Homo sapiens: one gene and its partner. The protein of the gene in region 2 interacts with the protein of the main gene of each other region in a pairwise test. Each region holds a gene or a part of one and is shown on either strand. Other genes may lie near its edges. The genes, in order: HACL1 and PEX11A.

The links.
Region 1: the proteins of PEX11A (region 2) and HACL1 come close enough for resonance energy transfer, tested with the Homo sapiens proteins (one large-scale study listed by BioGRID).

Annotation. Positions count from the first base shown.
Region 1 is NC_000003.12:15,591,240-15,595,069, forward strand, and holds part of HACL1 (2-hydroxyacyl-CoA lyase 1), read right to left. Parts: intron 442-3,830; coding exon 361-441; intron 1-360. UniProt on the Homo sapiens protein: Peroxisomal 2-OH acyl-CoA lyase involved in the cleavage (C1 removal) reaction in the fatty acid alpha-oxydation in a thiamine pyrophosphate (TPP)-dependent manner.
Region 2 is NC_000015.10:89,687,642-89,691,962, forward strand, and holds the start of PEX11A (peroxisomal membrane protein 11A), read right to left. Parts: upstream 3,114-4,321; 5' UTR 2,992-3,113; coding exon 2,936-2,991; intron 2,773-2,935; exon of another isoform or gene 2,707-2,772; intron 640-2,706; exon of another isoform or gene 236-639; intron 1-235. UniProt on the Homo sapiens protein: May be involved in peroxisomal proliferation and may regulate peroxisomes division. May mediate binding of coatomer proteins to the peroxisomal membrane. Promotes membrane protrusion and elongation on the peroxisomal surface.

The DNA of each region.
Region 1 (3,830 bases), on a different chromosome or scaffold from region 2:
TGTTACTTTTTTTCCTAAGATATTGTAGAAATAGTCACTTTTTTTGGTAAAAGTACCTAAAATTTACTCTCTTTGCAAATTTACAATACACAATATTATTAACTATGGCTTTCATGTTGTACATTAGATCTCCAGGCTTTATCGTACTTGACTGAAACTTTGTACCCTTTGACCTATCTCCCTATTCCCCCTCCTCCTCCTCATTCCCTCCCCGGTAACTAACTCTACTTTCAGTTTCTAAGAATTGAAGGGGTTTTTTTTTTCCAAGTCTTTCTACCCTAGATCAGCATTAGCTCTACTCAGTAAAATCCTGCAGTGACCTTTTTAAGAAAATGTTTTCAGTAATAATAATGTCATTACCAGCAGTTCATGTTTGCATTTGCCATACCGCCCAAGGCATGGATGAGACCTGGGCCAGAAACAACAAGGCAGACTCCTGGCCTAAAAGCAAAACAGAATTTATTAAAATCAGGTCAAATGTAACAACTGATTCATAACACTTTAGTGTGAAACATGGCAATCTTGGACTTCAAAGGAAGGACATACAAGTCTTTACTATAACTGATAAAACAATTATTAGAATATTTTTAATTAAAAAACAAGGCGATATATATATATCGCGATATATATACATACACACATATACGTATATAGTGTATACACTATATATGTATATAGTGTATATATACGTATATACGTGTATATATACACACACTATATACATAGTGTATATATATACACACTATATACCTATAGTATATACTATATACGTATATATACACACACTACATACGTATATATACACACACTATATACGTATATATACGTATATACGTATACGTATATATACACACACTATATACGTATATATACACACTATATACGTATACATACGTGTATATATGTATACATACGTATATACGTATACATGCATGTATATATGTATACATACGTATATATGTATACATGCGTGTATATATGTATACATACGTATATACGTATACATACGTGTATATATGGATCCATATATACGTATACATACGTGTATATGTATACATACGTATATATATGTATACATATATGTATATATACTCTGGGCACCAGAGTATACTCTATATATATGTATACATACAGACACACGTATACACACACGTGTATACATGTAGACACACGTATACACACACGTATGCATGTAGACACACGTATACATACACACACGTATACATACACACACGTATACATACACTTGTATACATATACACTTGTATATACACTTGTATACATATACACATGTATACACATGTACGCACATGTGTGCGTGTATACACATGTACGCACATGTGTGCGTGTATACACATGTACGCACATGTGTGCGTGTATACACATGTACGCACATGTGTGCGTGTATACACATGTACGCACATGTGTGCGTGTATACACATGTACGCACATGTGTGCGTGTATACACATGTACGCACATGTGTGCGTGTATACACATGTACGCACATGTGTGCGTGTATACACATGTACGCACATGTGTGCGTGTATACACATGTACGCACATGTGTGCGTGTATACACATGTACGCACATGTGTGCGTGTATACACATGTACGCACATGTGTGCGTGTATACACATGTACGCACATGTGTGCGTGTATACACATGTACGCACATGTGTGCGTGTATACACATGTACGCACATGTGTGCGTGTATACACATGTACGCACATGTGTGCGTGTATACACATGTACGCACATGTGTGCGTGTATACACATGTACGCATATGTACATATATACTCTGGGCAAGAGTGAGATGCTATCTCAAAAAAAGTGTATATATACACACACATATACATATATGTGTGTGTATATATACACACACATACGTATATATGTATATATACACACATACACACATACGTATATATGTGTGTATATATACACACATATATATGTGCGTGTGTGTATATATATACACACTTTTTTTTTGAGATAGCATCTCACTCTGTTGCTCAGGCTGGAGTGCAGTGGCATGATCAGGGCTCACTGCAGCCTCAACCTCCTAAGCTCAGGTGATCTTCCCACCACAGCCTCCCAAGTAACCGGGACTACAGGCAGATGCCACCACACCCGGCTAATTTTTTGTATTTTTTTTTGGTAGAGATGGGGTTTCACCATGTTGCCCAGGCTGGTCTTGAACTCCTGGGCTCAAGCAATCTGCCTGCCTTGGCCTCCCAAAGTGCTGGGATTACAGGCATAAGCCAGCATGCCTGGCCCAAAAAAAGAAAGATATCGGATTTCTTGTGAGAAATAAGGTACCTATCATTTTCACACCTTATGTCTCTAACCACTTATTTTGATCTGGACTACATCTGGACTAAATCAAGTTAATGGTATACAGAAGCAAATTTTTGACTGCTGAGTTCATTTTTGTATGAAAAAAGGTTTTTTTTTCATTTCTTAACAAATAAATATAACGTCGACTGATCTTTGATAGGAAAGTAATTCTGAATGCAGTGCTCTGCCCAAAATGTTTTGTGTTTTTTTTTTTGTCTTTTTTTTTTTTTTTTTTGAGACGAAGTCTCGTTCTTGTTCCCCAGGCTGCAGTGCAATGGTGTGATCTCGGCTCACTGCAACCTCCGCCTCCCGGATTCAAGTGATTCTCCTGCCTCAGCCTCCCAAGTAGCTGGGATTACAGGCATGTGCCACCACACCCGGCTAATTTTTGTATTTTTAGTAGAGACGGGGTTTCACCATGTTTGGCCAGGCTTGTCTCCAACTCCTGGCCTCAGGTGATCCACCCGCCTCGGCCTCCCAAAGTGCTGGGATTACAGGCATGAGCCACCGCGCCTGGTCCCCAAAATCTTTTAAAACTGAATTTGAGGCTGAGCACGGTGGCTGACGTCTGTAATCCCAGCATCTTGAGAGGCTGAGGCAGATGGATCACTTGAGTCTAGGAGTTCAAGACCAGCCTGGGCAACATGATGAAACCCTGTCTCTAAAAAATATAAAAACTAGCTGAGTATGGTGGTGCACACCTGTAGTGCCAGCTACTTGGGAGGCTGAGGCAGGAGAATCGCTGGAACCTGGGAGGTGGAGTTTGCAGTGAGCCGAGATGGTGCCACTGCACTCCAGCATGGAGACGACAGAGTGAGACTCCAAATAAATAAATATTGAACTTGAATGTTTTACCCTTCAGTGTGACTTTCTAAGCTTAAACCACTCGGGAAAAAGGTATCTCAATATAATTCAGTTCACCATTTTACACTTATAAAATAATTTCTTAAAAATTTCTGTTTAAGACAGACTTGAAAATAAGTAATTACCACCAAGTAAACTAAACTTCTAGAACAGTACTATCCAACAGAACTTTGTATAGTAATAGAAATGTTCTGCATTTGCAGTATGATACGGTAGCCACTACTGACATGGTTACTGAGCACTTGAAATGTGGCTACTACAAACTGATAAACTATGATTTAAATGTTATTTAATTTTAATTAATTTAAATGTAAACAAGTCATACGGCTCGTGGCTACTATACTTGCCAGTGCAGCTCCAGAAGTTCATTCAAACAGCAAAAATGTTTTAAATATGAACTTTTCGGCCGGGCATGGTGGCTCACGCCTGTAATCCCAGCCCTTTGGGAGGCCAAGGCCAGCAGATCATGAGGTCAAGAGACAGAGACCATCCTGGCCAACATAGTGAAACCCCATCTCTACTAAAATACAAAAATTAGCTGGGTGTGGTGGTGCATGCCTGTAATCCCAGCTACTGGGGAAGCTGAGGCATGAGGATCGCTTGAACCCAGGAGGCAGAGGTTCCAC
Region 2 (4,321 bases):
CTATAAATATTATTCTCAATAAAAATGCGGTACATTTTCATTTTCTAAAATAGTGAACTTGTTACTAGGAATGAAATAAAAAGAGAAGACTGGAATCATAAACAATCGCTTTCTCTTTTTTAAGTGTCCTTCCTGGTTACAGGACTGGTCATGTCAATGATTCTGCCTTTCTGAGCTTTGGTCTAATAATAAGGATCAGGCCAACAGTAAGACATTACTTTTATTTATTTATTTTTGAAGTGAACATAAACTCGATTTTATTGTCTTCATAATAAAACAAAAGATGATACTTAGAACTGGATCACTTGGCCCTTTCTCTTCTTATCTCCTCCCAGTTCAAAATGCTGGCATCTTTTAATAGCCAGGATTCTCTTAGATCTTCACTGGGCTCAACACACTCAAGCTTTAGCACAAACTTCTTGGTAGTTTTAGACTTTTTCTGGAAAATCGGCTTAGTCTGCCCACCACAGCCACTCTGCTTCCTGTCATAATGCTGCTTTCCCTGGGCATACAGAGAATCCTTGCTCTTCTTGTACTATGTCACTTTGTGGGGTTGGTGCTTGCCACACTTCTTACAGTCTGACAGGTTTTAGGAATGTTCACCGTGTTTGCATGAGCATTATTGGCACAGAAAGCAAGGTATTATTTTATGAATGCCAGTGTGGTCATAAAGGTTATACAGATCATCAAGGAGGTTGGGAAATGAATGCTAGAGATCTCAGATCTTTTGGAATAAACATATCTTAAATTATTATTATTATTATTTTTCGAGACAGAGTCTCGCTCTGTTGCCCAGGCTGGAGGGTAGTGGTGCGTTCTTGGCTCTCTGCAAACTCCGCCTCCCGGATTCAAGCGATTCTCCTGCCTCAGCCTCCTGAGTAGCTGGGATTACAGGCATGTGCCATCACGCCCAGCTAATTTTTGCATATTTAGTAGAGATGGGGTTTCACCATGTTGGCCAGGCTGGTCCCGAACTCCTGACCTCATGATCTGCCCACCTCAGCCTCCCAAAGTGCTGGGACTACAGGTGTGAGTCACTGAACCCGGCCTAAATGATGATGATTATTATTTTTAATGTTTTTATTTTTTTTTTAGAAGGAGTCTCGCTCTGTTGCCCAGGCTGGAGTGCAGTGGCGTGATCTTGGCTCACTGCAAGCTTTGCCTCCTGGGCTCATGCCATTCTCCTGCCTCAGCCTCCTGAGTAGCTGGGACTGCAGGCGCCCACCACAACGCCCAGCTAATTTTTGTATTTTTAGTAGAGACAGGGTTTCACCATGTTAGCCAGGATGGTCTCGATCTCCTGACTTTGTGATCCGCCCACCTCAGCCTCCCAAAGTGCTGGGATTACAGGTGTAAGCCACTGCACCCGGCCTAAATGATTATTTTTTTAACCAACTTCCTTGATAAACCCTGCAGGGTACATTCTAGGTACACTGGAATTACAGGTTTCTATTTAATGAAATTTCTATTTAATGAAGCTTGTATATAAAGTAACCATTTAAAAAACCTATCAAACTAATGAGAAAGCCAGTATAGCTTGGTAGTTAAGTGGGCACTGGAGTCATTTGCGTGGATGTGAATCCCTCAGTTCTGCCATTGTAGTACCTATTAACCTCTTTCTGCTTCAGTTTCTCCATCTGAAGTGGGTAAAATATTTAGAGTATCTACCTCATAGGGTTGTGATGAGGGTTATATAAGTTCATAGTTGCAAAACACTGGGAACAATAGCTGTCATAAAGATGGCTTCCAAAAGCCTCATTATTGGGGCCATTCTAATTGATCTGTTTGTATCAGCACTTGCACACCCAGAAGAGAATGCAGAGCTGTTAAATAAAACTGCAACTGTAAATATTTTTTCATTAAGCAAGAATCAACCAAATCTCTAAAACATCATGAACTAGTACTGTATTCGTATTAAAGATACAATCTCTCAGTTCTTTTCGTTTCTTATGGAACCAAAAGAAAAAGAGACACAATCTCTGTTTAATATTTTCAGTAGCACAGCATGAACCTTAGAGGTGCAGTTAGTTCTTTCTGAGCTTCTCCCCACTGTATTTCCCCCCAATCCAGTTGGTGTGGTCTCATCCCCGCTATATTTTGTTTTACAATTTACAAAACTATTCCACATGCAGTATCTCAATGATACAGCCTGGGTAATAATGGAAGAGAACTTCTGTCTCTCCTCAAACATTTCAAGAGGTATTTGAGACCGGGCGCGGTGGCTCGCACCTGTAATCCCAGCACTTTGGGAAGCCGAGGTGGACAGATCACCTGAGGTCAGGAGTTCGAGACCAGCCTGGCCAACATGGCGAAACCCCCGTCTCTACTAAAAATACAAAAAGTAGCCGGGCGTGGTAGTGCACGCCTGTAATCCCAGCTACTCAGGAGGCTGAGGCAGGAGAATCGCTTGAACCCGGGAGGCAGAGGTTGCAGTGGGCCGAGACCGCGCCACTGCCTGGGCGACAGAGCGAGACTCCGTCTCAAAAGAAAAAAAAAAGAGAGATATTTGAAGTCACACCAAGTGGTTTGCTTCCCTAGCCACAAATACTAATCCAAAGTTTCTCTTTAAAGGAGATCCCTCGGAAGAATGTTGAGTGGAGAGAACCAATCTTTCTGTGCCCGGAGAGCAAAGTTAGGAGGGGAGGAGGATCTGTCAGCCGGTGTCCCGTCGTCGGCGGTCTCGAGGCGGCTAGGGTGCCAGGCACTGGGGCTTTCGTGCACGGGGCTAGGACGGGACGCGGGTGCGTTGGGCCCACTCACGTTGAATTTAGGGTAAGGAGGGGCTCGGATACTAAACTCCCTCCGTAGGAGCTGGCAACGTCCTTCCTGCTTCCATCTACTAGGCTATCACCTCCTTTTTCCCGGGTGCAGGGGAATAGGCACGGGAGCCGAGTTAGGGCGAGAAAGGGGCGGAGGCCGCTGGCACCTGACTCACCTGAAGAGTCGGTCCCGGCCCTGGGTCTGGTTGGTGAAGCGGGTGAAGGCGTCCATGGCTTCTAGCCCAAAGGCCACGAGTCGCACGGGGCTCAGGCGTGGGTCCTCTGGGGCCCGTCGGATCCCCAGGGAACGGTCAGTCCCAGGTTATCCGCTGAGGGGGAGGGGCTGAGTCTCTCCGCCCCAGAGGGGGCGGGCACACTTTCTGTAGAGCAACTTCGCGGACTTCCGGTTCAAGCCGGAAGTTGTGGTTACCAAGGCGACGCAACGCCGCCCGGCCAGGTGAGCAAAACTGATCTTACCTTTGGATGCCGGGGCTCCCCTCGAGTCCCAGGACTCCCCTTTACCTGTAGAGTCTCCTAGAGGAAAGTCTGAGGGGGTCCGTCTCCCCAGACTCGGGCGTTTCCGGATGCCTGACGCCTCCCCGCAGATCTCAGGTTCTCAGGAACCCGGGGTGATATCCCGAATGGTCTCTCCAGCCTCAGAACTCCCCTGAGCTCTTGCTTGGGACGGTGGGGCCTAATCATTTCCCAGCGCCGTGCCTCTTTCCCTTGAGCTACACCAGCTCTATGTCTGGTGAAGGAAGTGGTTAGGTCAGAGATAAGCCAATTTCACAGTGTGAACCTAGCATGGGAGGCGGATGAAGTGAGAAAATGTTCTGCTTGGATTATTGAACATTGAAAGAAGATTGTTACCTGAGGAAATCCTAAAAGAGTCATTATGAGCAAAGTGAAGCAAAAATAGATTGCAATGAAATTGCACCGCTGAACATTCGTTCTGTGCGGCTTGAAGAAAAGGAGCCTTACCCACTCCGTGGCAGTAATTTTATAAAATGTACCCTCTATAACCACAAAATAAGGTCGGCCGGTGCTGTGGCTTACGCCTGTAATCCCAACACTTTGGGAGCCGAGGTGGGCGGATCACCTGCGATCAGGAGTTGGAGACCAGCCTGGCCAACAGGGTGAAACCCCGTCTCTACTAAAAATACAAAAAAAGTAGCCGGGCGTGGTGGTGGGCGCCTGTAATCCCAGCTACTCGGGAGGCTGAGGCAGGAGAATCGCTGGAACCCAGGAGGCGGAGGTGGCAGTGAGCCGAGATTGTGCCACTGCTTTCCAGCCTGGGCGACAGAGCGAGACGCTGTCTCAAAAAAATAAAATAAAATAAAATAAGGTGAACATTTTCGTAATCTTTATTCCCTTGGTCAGGCCAGCTCCTAACATTTGCAGGCCCTGGGTAAGAGTACAAATGGAGTCCAGCACACCGTATGTTTAAATATTTTAGTTATAAATCAAGCAACAAATTGTAAAGTAAAATATAGTCTGTTTTCCTACATTGACAAATAGACCCTCATAATGATGTAGAAGGCCAGGTTCATCTTCAGAATCCC